2 separate regions of the Homo sapiens genome follow, and region 1 is linked to region 2. The links come from fine-mapping of genetic effects on gene expression. Tissue or cell type: whole blood. Region 2 holds a variant in brackets; the other region holds the start of a gene. All regions are shown on one strand. Distances are between the middles of the regions.

Region 1 (8,106 bases), 31 kb before region 2:
TTAAATGTTTAATAGAGTATATATAAAATTTAGAAATAAATATAACTATTGAGGGTGCATGTTCAAAATTGTTGCGAAGGCTAGATTATAAAAATAGTTGGGAGGTCACCATTCTTGGCTGGGTAAGGTGACCCTGTTCTTTTCTTCCCCCAGAATGACATGCTGCTTTGTCATTATTTATTGTCTTCCTTATGGACAACATGAGGACAGCGACTGTGATTCAGTCAGGATGAATCTGCAGACAGCAGGATCCACTCTAGTTATAGTAGAAATGGATTTATTAGAGGTGGATGACTTTCAGCAGAGGTCCCTAAACTTAAGGGCATAGCAGAATCACCTAGAAGGCTTGCTAAAGTCAAGCCTACCAGGTCCCGCCCCCAGAGTTTCTGATTCAGCAGGTCTGGGGTGGGGCCCAAGAATTTGCATTTCTAACAAGTTCCCAGGTGCTGCTGGTCCAGAGCCCACCCTTGGAGAACCACTGGGCTATAGAATGATGTCAAGGGCTGGAGAGGGAGGCTACAGAGTGGGTCTAGGTCCAGGTACAGTCTCAGAACCACACTGCAAAACTGGCTTAGTCAGGTAGCTGCTGTATCTGCTGCTTCCACTGTGAACTCAAAAACCACATTGCCTGTGCTGCAGGCCGGAAAGCTGCTGAACCAGGAAGCTGTGCTGATGCTGCTGACTGCCCCTGAGGTTAGAGATTGACTAGACATAGTGCCACTGTCATCCCTGCTGGAGAAGGTCCGAAGCACCTCCACCTCTGTGCTTCCAGAGGGGCACTGTGGTGGCCACTTAAAATGCTCAGGCTATACCATGCACTAGAGCATCTACCTGGGTAAGCTGCTATTATTATTATAATCGACCTGGAAGATTACTCTGGGGAAACCCTAGTGCAAGGGACTTTGGAGGAAGAGGTCTTTGGTGTTTCAGGCTTTGGTGCACAGGAAATCTTGCTAGGAGGTTGGAGTGGTTTTGTGTGAGGTGAGAGCAATGTCTGCTGCAGACTATTTTTCATGTTGGCTCCTGGTATGGTGCCTGAGCTCTAGGACTTGGCACATAGAAGGCCCTCTTCCTTTTCCTTCCTCAACCTGCTAGTCTCAGCCACTCCCCTGAGCACATACAGTATGCTGAAGTGTTTCAGTGTTTCAAGTGGGCTCTTGAGCATGCTAGGTATCCAGGGAGACCAGAATTCTTGCAGTGACAAGTCCGCTGGGGCTATTTCCATCTAGGAGTCAGTCTCACTTAGCTCACTGGGGATCTAGGTTACATGTGTTTTCCCAGAGTGACCTCCCCCTAACCCCCTTCCCTCCACATCCTTGTCTCCAGAGCCTGGAACCCTGGGATGCCACCTTGGTCTTGAGAATCTCAGGCTGAATCCATTTCTAGGAGGGAGACATGAGATTCTTCCACAAATGAGGTGGGGAGGGGTTGGAGGAAACTATTATTTCTAATACACCCTTCAGGCAACAGGTGCAAGCATAGAGAGTTCCAGCTTAAACTTTAGGATGGTATGACAGTGACAGGCATTTAGCAGAAAGTGCACTTCAGGGCTGGGCGCGGTGGCTCACGCCTGCAATCCCAGCACTTTGGGAGGCCGAGAAGGGTGGATCATGAGGTCAGGAGATTGAGACCATCCTGGCTAACACAGTGAAACCCCGTCTCTACTACAAATACAAAAATTAGCCAGGCATGGTGGCACACGCATGTAGTCCCAGCTACTCAGGAGGCTGAGGCAGGAGAATCGCTTGAACCTGGGAGGTGGAGGTTGCAGTGAGCCAAGATCATGCCACTGCACTCCAGCCTGGGCAACAGAGTGAGACTCCGTCTCAAAAAAAAAAAACAAAAAGTGCACTTCGGATTCTGAAGACTGGCCTTTATCCCACAGGCAAGGGATATGCTGTATGACACTCTCCTGATGCTGGGCATGGCTGTGAGCCAAAGCACCCAGGCAGCCCTGCCATCAGAAGGGTAAACCACGGACACCTGATGCCTTCCTGAAGGAAGAGCACTACGCCTGCCAAACCATCAAGCGTTGATGCTCCAGCGCCTTCTACCCGTGGTTCTCCAGCCTCAGCAGAAGAGAGAGAAATTGATGACCCTGTCGTTGTAGCATCCCCATCACCCAGCAATTAATTTTAGTTCAATGCTTCAAACGCTCTTCAGGCGCAGTGTGCGTTCAGCTGTGTCAGCTAATGGTGAGTACCCGGACAACCATTCTGTTTCACATTCAGTACAGTATTCAATAAATCACATGAGATACTCAACACTGTATTATAACATAGATAGGCCTGTGTTACATTATGTTGCCCACTGTAAGCTAATGTAAGTGTTCTGAGCACGTTTAAGGGAGGCGAGGCTGAGCTCTGATATTCGATAGGTTAGGTGTATTCAAAGCATTTTAGACTTTCAATATTTTCAATTTACAATGGCTTTTATAGGGATGTCACTCCACCGTAGGTCGAGGAGAATATGTAGTCAAGTTGCCTGGTCATGAGCACATTTTAGGTCAAGGTGTGTTTTACGCAGCTTCTAGGGTTTGCTCCTTCCTTTTGAGTTTGAGCCTGGGGGTGTGGGTTGAGGATAAAGAGTAGGTGTGGGCCAGGAGTGGTGGCTCACATCTGTAATCCCAGCACTTTGGGAGGCCGAGGTGGGAGGATCTCCTGAGCCCAGGGGTTCGAGATCAGTCTGGGGAAGGGACGAGACCTTGTCTCTACAAAATTAAAATAAAAATAAATAAATTAGCCAGGCCTGGTGGTGCATGCCTGTAGTCCCAGCTACTCAGGAGACTGAAGCAGGAGGATCACTTGAGCCCAGGACTTTGAGGCTGCAGTGAGCTATGATCACGCCACTGCACTCCAGCATGAGCAATAGAGTGAGACCCTGTCTGTATTGAGAGAGAGAGAGAGAGAGAGAGAGAGAGAGAGAGAGAGAGAGAGAGACACACACAGAGAGACAGACAGAGAGAGAACAAAGAGCAGGTGTGATCGGAGCTCAGGAAATCCTCCCTCTGGTAAGTAGTCTCAGCCTTCTATTGAGGCTGCCACCACAGTGCCATCCACAGCTTTTGCAGACCATGACATACGCAAACTGTTGTAAAATTTTGGCAGTGCTCATAGTCTCAGAGCCAAGCTTTGAAACAGAGAGGCAGCAGGAGACAGTGGGAGGAGGGTGGGATTAGAGACAGAAGGTCTCCGGGTTTGAATCTTTTCTCTCTATTGGCTGGTTGTGTGACTCTTGTCTCAGCTTCTTGGGCTGTACAAAGAGAAAACTAACACCTGCCTTAGAGACTTGTGATGATTTAATGTAGAGTGTGTGACATGTTATTGGATATTAGCAATTGCTGATATTTATAATGAAGAGCACTGGAAGCTGTCACAGTTCTCATAGTTTATTTTGCATTTGCTCCTCAGCATCCTCTGCTCATCTCAGTGTCTGTGTGGTCTTAGTGGGATGCTGACTATATTAATACTTGTAAACTTTACTCATTTTCCATCTCAAATGGGACAAGGGATAAAAATTATTTTTTATATTGTATATTTATTTAGTAAGTGAGCACTTTCCATTTTAGGCACTGGAGACACAGAAATGAAAGAGACAACGTGCCCTCAAGGATCTCACAGTGTGTGGTGAGGTGGACACACACACACATATCTAAGCACATGACAGTGAGAGGCACGTGGTCACGAGGTTGTGACGTGGAGCTGAGAGCTCAGAGGAAGGGCTTTGGATCAAGTGTGGTCAGACCACACTCGGCCATGAAAGTCTTTGAAGGTGGGGAAGGGGTGAAGATGGTGAGGGGATTCCACGGCTGGGAGAGGTACACTCCCTACACGTTCTAACCAACTGGCCGTGGGGAGGAAGCTGGAGGTCAGGACACAGGTAGGGCCTGGGTTTTTGCCTCATGTGACTGGGTGGATGGTCACAATTCGGCCATGCTGTCTTTGAACTCAACACCACCAAAATCATAGGATATTCCTAGTAATGTTGATTTCCACTAGATTACTTTTGTTACCAGAGTTTTAAGGGCAGAAGTCTTTGTCCCTTTTTTTCTCTAACAGGAAGCCATTCTGGGCCATTTATTTGCCGTTAACTTACACAGCCCACTGGAGAGTGGAGGGGTGTGAATGTGGGAGCCTGGGTGAGGGCTGCACCGGACTGTCACCAGGACAGTCCTCAATGCTGCCTGACTTAGCCACATTGCCAAAAACATACACCCATAGGTTATGAAATATTCAATACTGTATTGTATGGGAGAAATACAAAGAGGAGAAAGAACTGGGTTGAAAAGGTGGTCTGGTCAGGTATCTCAACCCACTGGCTTATAGACCAGGAACCACTCTAGACAATGCATGTAAGGAACAGAAATGGGAAACAAAAACATTTAAATTGTATTTTTCTCTGATTGCAATAAACTTGGAGGAAAGCTATTTTCTTACTTTGAGCTTTTCTTCCAATTATGATGAATGCAGAGATTAATTACAAAGGACCCGGATAAACTAAAACTCATCTACAGCATTTTTTTTTTTTTTGAGATGGAATCTCGCTCTGTTGCCCCGGCTGGAGTGCAGTGGCGCGATCTCGGCTCACTGCAAGCTCCGCCTCCCGGGTTCACGCCATTCTCCTGCCTCAGCCTCCTGAGTAGCTGGGACAACAGGCACCTGCCACCACGCCCAGCTAATCTTTTTTGTATTTTTAGTAGAGACGGGGTTTCACCTTGTTAGCCAGGATGGTCTCCATCTCCTGACCTCGTGATCTGCCTGCCTTGACCTCCCAAAGTGCTGGGATTACAGGCGTGAGCCACCGCGCCCGGCCTCTACAGCATATTTTAAAAGGCAAAAAGGTATTTTAAAATTCATGTTGGAAGACGTGGGCTCTAGCTGGGGCTGAGACAGATGATTCAACTATATTTTTTATTTTACTGCGCACTGAGGGTTGAAGCTGAAGAGCATGCATGCTTACCATTGTGTGTGCACATGTGTGTATGTGTGTCTTACACCAAAGACTGAAATCTCAAAAAAGCCCCAGGGAGCAGGTGTAACTATTATGCTACAAATGAACAGGTGTATTGTGGATCGCTGTTATATAGTTCTTTTCTTCAAACATACCTTCCTGATATAACGTTTTCTTCCTGAAAGCAAACAGTTTCTACTATTGGATTCTTGAGTGTATCATTAAGCTTCTCCAAACACAAATAACATCTACTATGCTTTAAAAGTAATGGCCCACACAGCTACTTATTTGTGTGACTGTTTATCTGTTTATACCTTTGCCTGTTTTTATCTTCAAGCAAATGGGGGATCTCAGAAGTCTTAATGAAGTAACTATCCCTGAACACTGGGATCAATACTCAGCATCCAGCTGTCAAATCAACACCAAGGTATGTACCGGGGAAAGGAAGGTTTTAGGTGAACTCCTAGCTGCATGTCTGGTTAACCTGCAACCACACAAAGCAGCTGGGGTAAAGGTGTGTCCCGATGCCTTGTGGTGTACTTGGAACTCCACAGCCAAAAGATTAGACGTTGTTTGCTCACTGTGTTCAAAACAAGAGGTGTAAAGGAAGTTCAGCAACAACCGAAAGATGACTCGTAATTTGTAACTGACTGGCTATGCTTGGCGAGCCTGGTGTATTTATAATCTTTCAAAGTCAAGCGCAAAGGCTCCTGAGCCTCATGCGTCACCCAACTGCAGCATTCCTGTTGATCACGCTGGCTGTCACCATAAAGCCTGAGCAAAAGTAAACTTTTCTGTCCCAAGGGTTTCCTTGTACTGAAAGAGCCACTGCTTGCGGCTTTTTACAGGATCACAACCAATGTCTGTTTCATGCGGCAGGTCCCTGGGGACTGTAATTGCAGAAGTATAACCTGGCGGTTATGTCACATGGCCCAAGAAACTGCCAGGAGACCAACATGCTTCCTGCCAGACGACCTTTTGCAGCTGAAGGCACTAGTGCCCCATCTGCGGTCGCTGTCTCTGTATGAACAATTCTCTGATATTCCCTGGGCAAAAAGAGGTGCTTGTTGACAACACTGAGTCAAAACTTGGAACCCTGAGCCCTCAGTCTGCCACCATATCATTTTCCTGTTAATGGAGTGTTAATTAACAAGGGTTTTCGTTTTTATGAAACGAACTGTTTTTAAGTAGGAGGATTTCCTACCTTTGAATCAACTCAGAGCTCATTTCCTACTAAAATGATAGGTGATATCAATATAAGGATGTGGAAGATTTGCCCAGTTTAAGCGTTGGGAATGGAGGCCTAGCTGCATGGCTGAGGGGATTTGGGCCATGCATGGCCTCACTGGTTGAGGACATGGATGCTGGAGATGCTTAGGTCTGGGCTTCTTTGTCTCTTTAGCCTCAGTATTCTCATCTGTAAAATGGGGTGATGTGAGAAGTCGATGAACTAATGCACATGAATAATGACAGCTAATACTTGTGTGGCCCCAACTACATCCCAGGCACTGTTTTTCTGTTAACTCATTTATTCCTCAGAGCAATCCTATGAGGGAGGTACTATTGTGGTCAGTCCCATTTTACAGATGGAAAGCTGAGGCACAGAAAGGTTGGTAACTTGCTCAAGGTCACGCAACTACTAAGTGGCAGACCTGGGATTTGAACCTATGCCTGACTGTGGAGCCCATGTTCTTATGATGCCAAGTTGCACCTTTTGTAAGACAGTCAGTAGGTGGCATACACTTGGTAAGTACTCAGTAACTATCAGAACAGGGTATACAGCGGATCACCTGGAACAGAAGCCATGTTTCTCACCTCTGTTGGCTATGGTGCAAGGCATGGGTGACCTTTAAGGGCCTAATAGTGCTGTCTACTTATCAAAGGCTCAGCTTCTTAGCTGTGGCCACAGGAGACTGGGGCAACCAGAAGTCTGGTAGGGTGTCAAGCCAATAGTCATCCTGGGGATGATGAGATGCCACCAGATTGCTGCTGACTTGGGCCAAGTTGGTGGCAGGCACTTCAGGCCATGGGGGGAACCAGGCATGAGAGCAGGGTGTGGCAGGGAGGAGACACTTGGTCTGTGTGTGTGTGTTTAGGGAGGTAGATGGGAGCCTCAGGTGATTTCGGGTCTTGGGAAAGATAGCTTGGGATGGAGAGTTGGGTCTCAACCCTTGTCTCTCACTCAGGTCTATACCTAACTGGAGACACTGAGAAGAAGAATCAGGGATGAATGCAAGAAGGTGATGTGAGCCATCCCATCCCCACACCTGTGTGTTAAGGAACATGGGGATGTTTTAATAGTAAAGAAATGCCCATAGGATGTTTGGGGGTGGTGATGACTTCCGGTATTTCCTCTCAAAAGGCTAAAAATACTGACAGTCTTGTGCTGAAACTGGCTTTAGATTTTCACCCTGTTTGTCATTCTGCTCTAAGACTGGCTGGGCACTATTCTAGGGGATGGTGATTCAAAGACAGTAGAAAGCACATCCCTTTCCTCAAGATACAACACATAAACATATAATAGAAATCAATAGGGTCATCCAGAAGTAAGCACTGGGGTCATGGGAGCTTTGGGAGGGAAGAGGCAGGGTCAGAGATGGTGGGGGATAACAGCTGAAGGTCAGCCTTTGAGGCAATGGGAGGTGGAAGCATGATCAGGTTTAGGAGAGGAAGGCAAGGGATGAACAGCTGCATCTTGATAGGGCTTAAAATGTCAGTCTAGGCGAGGTAGAAGATAAAGGTGGGGAGGTAGGGCCAGGTGTAATATATATTTTATTAATTTTTTTTTACTTTTTTTTTTTTTTTGAGACGGAGTCTCACTCTGTCACCCAGGCTGGAGTATACTGGTGCCATCTCGCTCACTGTAACCTCCCCTACCTGGGCTCAAGCAATTCTCCGGCCTCAGCATCATCAGTAGCTGGGATTACAGGCGCCCGACACAATGCCTGGCTAATTTTTTGTATTTTTAGTAGATACGGGGTTTTGTCATGTTGGCCAGGCTCGTCTTGAACTCCTGATCTCAGGTGATCCACCTGCCTTGGCCACCCAAAGTGCTGGGATTACAGGCGTGAGCCACCGCACCTGACCTAGGTGTAATATATAAAGGAGTTTGTGCTTTATTGGCTGGTCAGAAATGTTGGTGTCATTAGATGTCTG
Region 2 (8,106 bases):
GTATATGGAGACTGTCAGTTGACCTTGTTGGTAATAATTTTTTTAGTTAGCTGGAAGCTAGAAAGGGCAGAAAGAGGTGAAGAGGAAGCTGTGGCCATGGAGGTTAATGTGGTCTGGGCTTGGGGTAGGTGTGGTGAGTGGAGGTTGACAACAGGTACAGCTTGTACTGCAAGGGCTGGGTAGCACAGGAGCTAAGGGAGGTGGGAGGGCCCGCAGAGCCCAGGTCCTATGCTGGGTGTTCTCTGACGAGCTCTGGAATGAAGTAGGCATGGGCAGTTGTTAAGGCTTTAAATCCCTCGATGTTAGGCCTTGAGGGACTGTGATTTCTCCCCACATCACTTCCCCTTAACCAAGTAGTAAACTACATTTGGCCAAAATTGTGCCTTTAGGACAATAGCCAGAGCAAGACGCAGAGCAAATCTATGACAGCCACGCTAACACTGCACATAGGACCAGACACAGAGAAAAAGCCTTCTCAGTGTGCACAGTGTCTGCATCTAAGCAAAATAAGTCTATCAGAATCTCCTTGAAACTGCTGCCAGGGAAATCTGAAAGCTTCTAGTAAGCAAAGCACAATGAAATGGAAATGAGTTATAGAGTACCCATTACCTCTAGTTTAATGTGCAATTGATAAGCTCTTTTACTTACTGTACCACCTGTTTTATTTTAATGAAAGGAAAAATTAGCTATTAGAGCTTTCGTGGACTCATTTGCAACCATGGTCTCCCAACTGTATTTCTTTGAGATGGCTTTAAGTTCCTGAGTCCCCAGTTCTCTGACTGAGGTAGTGGTGGTGGGCTGTGTTGGGGAGGCAGGCCTTTGATTGGGGAATGTGGTCAGTGACCTTCAAGATGGCCTGTGATGGTCCCCACCTCCTGGTGTTCACCCTTGGTGTAGTCCCCTCCCACACTGTGGCAGAGTTGATCTATGTGACCAATAGGACACAGCAGAACCCAGTGGAGTTTATTTTTAAGATTAGTTCTCATGTTCTCCCTCTCTCTCTCTCTCCCCTCATCTATCAGATCACTAATTCTCAAGCCAGCTCTCATGTCAAAAGGACATGCAGACAGTCTATGGAGAGGCCATGGGGACTCTAGCCAACAGCCAGTGAGGGCCTGAAGCCATGAACACTGTGAGCACACTTGGAAGTGGCTCCTCCAGCCCCAGTCAAGCCTTCAGGTGACTGCAGCCCTGACTTGACAGCAACCTTGTGAGAGCCCCTGAGTCAGCCCCACCTTACTAGTTTCCAGACCCTCAGATGCTGTGAGAGGTCACACACATTTGCTGTGCCAAGCTACTGTGTTTGGGGGTAATTTGTTACACAGCAATAGAAAACGTAATACAGAGAGTACAGTACCCATTACCTCTAGTTTAATGTGCAATTGATAAGCTCTTTACTTACTGTACCACCTGTTTTATTTTAATGAAAGGAAAAATTAGCTACTAGAGCTTTTGTGGATTCATTTTGTGGATTCAGAGGGAAGATAGTATCTTCTTGACTCAAGAGGAGGCCCTCATTACTTCTGCTGGGAGAACTGTCCATGTCCCTGATTAGAGTGGTTGGGGCATTCTCACTTCCTTTGCTAGACTGGGGGTACTGGTGTTTTGAATTAGATACAGAAAGGATTTTGCCTACATTCATTGCTGCATGCCTGTAACCCTTGTCATTTGGAGGCATGGATCAGGAAGCGCACACAGAATCTAGAGGATGATGCAGATCAGTTCTTCTTGTCCCTGTTCCATCTTGGTGGGGGCGGCAGGAAACATTTTTGTGCACTTGTAAGCTTCTGAAACTGGTATAAATGAGAAAAAAATAAGCTTTCTTTCTTATTATAAACACAAAATACCTGTGGTGTAAAAGATAAAAAGGCAAAACTATTCACCACCAATGATTCCACCATCCAGATACAAATACTGTTAACAACTGGAGCATATCATACTCCTATCTAGGTATATATATTTTACACAAATAGACAATATAATAAGTGCTATTGTATGACTTTTTTCATTACATATATTATGAGGCTGTGTTTATGTGACTAATATATCTTGTCATCTGCAATTATAATTTTAAATGGTTGCATGATACCCATTATACAGATGTGTCATAATTTCTTAAGCCAGTCACCTTTTGTTGGATTAAATTTGTTTTTATTTTTGCTATTATAAGGATTGCTAAAAAGAATATGCTTGTAGCAAATATTTGTACCTACCTTGACTTTCCTTCTTATGATAAATTATTAAAATAGAATGGTTGGACTAAAGCATGTATACATTCTATTTTATTTATTTTATTTTATTTTATTTTTTGAGACGGAGTCTCTCTCTGTTGCCCAGGTTATAGTGCAGTCATGTGCTCTCAGCTCCGCTCAGCAACCTCTGCCTCCCAGATTCAAGCGATTCTCCTGCCTCAGCCTCCTGAGTAGCTGGGATTACCGGCGCCCACCATCATGCCTGGCTAATTTTATAATTTTAGTAGAGATGGGGTTTCGCCATGTTGGCCAGGCTGACCTCTAACTCTTGACCTCAGGTGATCCACCTGCCTCGATCTCCCAAAGTGCTGGGATTACAGGCGTGAGCCACCGTGCCCGGCCTAAAGCATATATACATTTTAAATGCATTCCCATATATTACCAAATTGCTTTCCAGAAAGTTTGTACCAGTCTATACTCATTGAAATTTATTAGTGTCTATTTCCTTGTACCCTTGCCAGCACTGAGTAATAATTTTAAAAAAATCTTTCTGGCCTTCTATTTATATGGGAAACATAGGGACTTTTCAAGAAGTCTAGCTTATATTCAAAATTTGGCAGCAGCTGGCCAGGCGCCATGGCTCACATCTGTAATCCCAGCACTTTGGGAGGCTGAGGCTGGAGGATCACTTGAGCCCAGAAGTTTGAGTCTAGCCCGGTCAACATAGTGGGTCCTTGTCTCTACAAAAAATACAAAAATTAGCTGGGTGTGTTGCTGTGCACCTGTAGTCCTAACTACTCAGGAGGTTGAATTGGGAGGATCCCTTGAGCCTGGGAGGTTGAGGCTGGAGTGAGCTATGATTGTACAACTGTATTCCAGCCTGAGCAACAGAGCAAGACCCTGTCAGAAAGAAAAGGTAAGAAGAGAAGAGAAAAGGTAGGAAGAAAGGAGAGGAGACGAGAGGAGAGGAGAGGAGGAAAGGAAGGAAGAAATTGGCAGCAGCTTTGAGGGTGAGCAAGCTCTACTATAATCCAATGCCCAGTCAAGGGTGAGAGAAATGAAGAAATGAATTGACTGTTTCTCCCAGATTATGCTTAGAAGATGACAGGAAGAATGTTGAAAATAATATGTATGTGTTCAGGATGTAAGAAAGATCAAACATAAAATATTCAAATCTCTTGGCCCTGTAATTATACTTCTGACAGTTTAGCTTAAATAAAAATTCCAGTGAAAGGGAAAAGGGTATATACACCAAAAAAGTTTATTAACAGTACTTATTTTTTTTTCTAAGACCTAGGTGAAAACAAAACATTACTTATATTAGGGAAACACTACAAACACTTAACAGAAGAGAAATAGTTTAAGAAACTGGGGTATATCAACTTGAAGGAATATTATACAGTTGTTAAATTCGTAAAGGTTATATAGAAACATGCAAATATGTTTATGATGTAATTAGTCATATAAAGGTTATATAGAAACATATATGTTTATGATATAATGTGAGGTATAAAAAGAAATACATACAATTTTTAGCATTTAAAAATATGTACTAGTTAAATCCACATCAACAAGACTGGAAGGAAATATAAAACTACTAATCGTTGTGAAAGAGAGTGGCATCCTATCTTTGAATTTTTTTTTTTCCTGCATTGATTGCTTTTATTTAGGAAAGACCTGATGTCATATGGAAGCCAAGAAGAAACTCTTGTCCAATTTGTAGGGAAAGCAGAGAGACAGAGAGACAGAGAGAGCTTCAGCTTGGTTTCAAAACAAGGATGGAAATACAGAACAACTTAAGTTACCAGCACACTTCATAACAATTAAAAATCATCTCGCTTCTTCCTTCTGCCAGCATAATTTTGGGCTCACAGGTGGATTGACCTGACCTCCAAGAAATGTGTGACAAGGACTCGCCCCTTACCTCCTCAGTTACAGCACGTTTGGTGTTTATGTGAAGCTGGTGGCTTTCAGTATCATGGTGAAAATTTTCTTTTAGGTCATAATTGCTTAACTACAATGAAAAGTATTGATTTTGGAAAAGGCTCATCTTCCCAAAGAGGTTCACTTCAGGAGGTGAATTAATGTGCTCCAGGGACAGTCATGGAAAATGCTTGGCCACACTGGCCGTGTTCTGTAGCCAGGCATTGCTGAACAGTGCAGAGAAAGGCGCTGGAGGCAGACAGAGCTGGGCTGGAAGCCAGGCTCCACTTCATACCAGAAGTATGAGCCCGGGCAAGTTATTGAACTTCTACAGCTTAGTTTACGTAGCTGTGAAAATGGATGAATAATGCCTGCTTGTGCTGTTGTTAGGGAGGGGACGCCTGCTTGGAGGCGAGTATGCAGTAGGTGCTCAGTGAGTGGTGATGAGATAAAAAGCAATGCTGCTCATTTTCTATATTTCTCTTTTCATACTTATTGAGATTACAA[T/C]GGAGAGAAGGGACACCAGCTTAAAAGAAAACATTTGCAAATCTGTTTCTGATAAATGGAAATGAGAGCAACTGTAAACCACATGAGTCTGTCCAGGACAGAAGAGAGTGAGTGAAGGAAGGCTTTCTCAGCTGGGTGGTTATGTGAGCAGCGCCTCTACTGCCTCTCTGTTAAGTAATTTATCTGGACATCTTGATTGATAATGATGTGGCACTAAAAAACGAAAAGGCATCACAAAACTGCAAACCCTCTGCTTGCACTGTGGGAATAAAATTGGTCACGAAAAGGTGATGGCCACAAAAATCTGGTGGCGGGGTGGGGGGCGGGGGGTGCGGGGAATAGAAAATCTTACATAATATCTATTCCTGTGTTATTTTTTTAAAATCAGTTTATACAGTCTAATTTTTAAAAACAAAAGCTAGATTTTAGCTCTTCTCAATCCAGTGATTTGAAATCAGCCTGAAGAGAGCAAGGTGCATTGAATTTGCTATGACATCAACCGAATTTGTCAATTTCATTTGGATTTCCAGAATGTCCAGTGCTAGGAGACTCATAAGTTGGAGAGAAACGGCCTGATTTATAGAAACTGAGCGAGACTCCGGACCACCTGATGCAGAGAAACCTGTGACCTGAAAAAGTCTATTTGTGTTTCCTCTAGGAATCTCGGCCAAGAAGACAGGGACAAGCTCCCAACTCTGACTACCCCTTTTACAGGGAAAAAAAAAAAATCCCGTGCCTTCTTTGCAGCAAGTGACAAATCCTTGTCATATCGAGATGGCTTTTCCTCCTCCTCTTCAAACATCTTTTAGCAGCAACAGCAGCTCAAGTAACTGGAATTATTTCAGAGTTAAAATGCAGGCTTTGTAGACCCTCTTAGACAGACAGATTCAATTTCAAAGGAAACTTCTTTGGCTGGGTACTCAGTGAGTGTTACACAGGGATTTGGGGAGTTAATATTCACTGTTTCTGTTGTTGGAGAAAAGGAAAGCAGAGTTGCTCTTTCTCATTACTCTCCCCAACGCACATCTGTTTCCTCTCGTATCTTGGAATTAGGAAGATGGAGGAGACTTAAGTGGTGACCCACCTAGCCTCCTGATGCATGCTGGGCTCACTTTAAAACTCCCAAAACAGATGGCAGTTGATCACGGTTTTAAAGATCCCAGCATAGACTTTCTGCAGCCTCCCTTGTTAGCCACTATCAGCGCTTAACATTCTGTCATCTGAATAACTCCTTAAAAATGATAGCAATGGTAGTAGAAATTTAAAAGGAACCTCCCAAAAAACATGCAAAAGCTTACCACCCCAGTAAATCACCCGCAACAATGTCGCAACAGTTTAAATTTACTGCAGAGAGAGCTGAAGTTTAGGAGACACAGCTTTATAATATTTTTGAGAGATAGTTGAGTGCAAATGAGTCCTGTTCCTCTTGCATCAGGGCCTGCTCCACTGAGTCATCCTGCCTTCAGAAGCTTCCAGCTAAGTGGCAGGCCCCGGCCATAGGCTCCCTGTGTCCCCAGCCTCCAGAGAACACACAATGTTCTCATCGCCCTTAGCTCCATTCCAGAAGGGGCCTGCAGTTCTGCAGCTTATCAGGGGTCTACTGGGAAGTGAGATGTCACTGTCCCTTTCTGGCCCTGCATTGTCTGTGAGTGGCTCTCCTGGATTAAGAGTTGGCAAAGTATGGCCAGTGGCCAGGACTGGCCTGCTGCCTGTTTTTGTTTAACCCGTGAGCTAAGAATAGTTTTTACCTATTTTAAGTAGTTGAAAAAAAAATCAAGAGAAGAATACTATTTCGTGATATGTGAAAAATCACATGAAATTCAAATGTAAGTGTCCATAAATAAAGTCTTACTGGAAGACAGCCTTGCTCATTTATTTCTGTCTCATTCGCTACTGTCTGCGGCTGCCTTCACGCTACAATGGCAGTACTGAGTAGTTGTGACGGGCACTGTATGACAGCAAATCCTAAAGTATTTGCCATCTGGCCCTTCACAGAAAAAGTTTGCTGACCCTGGCTTTCGAGCCTCTCATCACTTTGGGATTCATCTCTTTACTTTCCCCAGAGTGAGGGAGGCAGTAACGTTCCTCGTGAGTGCTTAGTCCTTGCTCCCAAGGCAATAAACCCCCCAAAACCCCTCTCTTTCTGCAGTCTTCTTGTTGGCTTGATAGTGGTAGGGCTGGTTCAGCCAAGGTCACAGTTGGAGGGCAGGAAGGGGGTACAGCGAAGGACGACGGGGGTGTCTTCTCTAGTCCTGTTTGCAGCAATCTTTAGAATGCAAAATAATTAAGAAGAAACTGCTGTTTTTTGGCTGTGGGATGCAATTCGAATTCTGGAAAATTAGAATCAACAGAACGTGGGATGTGGGAGTCCAGGACAACTCCCCTGTTTTGGCTGTGTTTGGTGCCATGTGTGGAGGTGGGAGAGATGGGAGAAAGAAGAGGTTTGGGCAGGGGGAGGGAAGAATCAAGATTCTGCTTTGAATGGACGAAGGTTGTGGTTTGTTGAGAGGACAACTAGATAACTGGCCACTTGAAGATGGGATGGAAGTCTGAATCTGCAAGGAGTCACAGATGAATGGTATGGAAAGCTGTGGTAGTGGATGAGATCATACGAACGGTGGGTGCAGATGGAAACGAGAAGCCATCTAAGGACTCGTAATGGGCTCCTCAACACTTGGAAGTTGGGTAGAGGAAGAAGACCGCATGAGGGCAGGATCCTGAATGTTCCACTCACTGCTATATCCCTAGCACTGGTTACAGTGCTTGGCACACACTGCATGCTCAATAAATTATTTGTTGCCCATATAAGTGAACGTGAATTCCAATGGACTAGCATCTTCCACTCTCAACATAAACAAAAACAACAGCAACATTGCAATTCCCTATCTTCTCTTCCCTGATCTCTTTCTCATTCTGTCTCTCCTTCCCTTTTCCTCTGCCTTCCTGTTGCCTTCTCTGATATGAGTTAAATTTATCAGGGGTGTCCAGGTACCCGGCTATTCTTGAGCATTCCTTATCTGGCTACAACTCTGGGTGACACTGGTTACTAGTTTAGTGAACGAGCCAACATATATTCTTCTTTTTGTCTACATAGTTTTTTTTAATGTTAAACTTGTTCCTATTGCACCTCACTCTTTATGAACTGTCAGTTAATGCTATTTTGGCTCTATTCCTACCTTAGACGGATGCTTGACAACTTGGTGTCATCTGACCTTAATTAGGACATTCTTGGTTAAGACATTGTTGGTGTAAAGAGAGAGATGTTCAGTATGGGGTCCTCTCTGACATGAGTAAGGTCACAGAGGATGTCCCTAGGTGGAGGCTGAGTCATCGATAGGCTGCCTTTTGGGTGATATTATTCAGCTCTTTGTGCCTGCACTTAAGACAGAAGAGAGTCTCTCTTATTTCCTTCTATCTAATTGATGAAAAGTCATTTGTGATGGAATCTAAGGTCAGATTCCAGCACAAAGAGATTACATCTCTT

Evidence for each region. PIP is the estimated chance that this variant, and not a neighbour inherited with it, causes the effect.
Region 1: it holds the start of LINC00426, and the variant in region 2 is fine-mapped to the expression of LINC00426 in whole blood (TOPMed, PIP above 0.99).

Annotation. Positions count from the first base shown.
Region 1 is chr13:30,369,556-30,377,661 of GRCh38, reverse strand. LINC00426 (long intergenic non-protein coding RNA 426) reads left to right here and starts at 3,748. Exons shown (of 5, transcript NR_024464.2): 1 at 3,748-3,879; 2 at 5,288-5,377. RefSeq lists enhancers at 450-509, 640-759.
Region 2 is chr13:30,338,643-30,346,748 of GRCh38, reverse strand. LINC00426 (long intergenic non-protein coding RNA 426) reads left to right here. Exons shown (of 5, transcript NR_024464.2): 5 at 5,281-6,483. LOC124903145 (a long non-coding RNA gene) reads right to left here. Exons shown (of 2, transcript XR_007063742.1): 2 at 1-1,793. Among named protein-coding and RNA genes, the nearest start is that of LINC00427, 23 kb to the right of the region's middle. RefSeq lists an enhancer at 7,675-8,106. The variant T/C (reference allele first, on the strand shown) is at 4,623.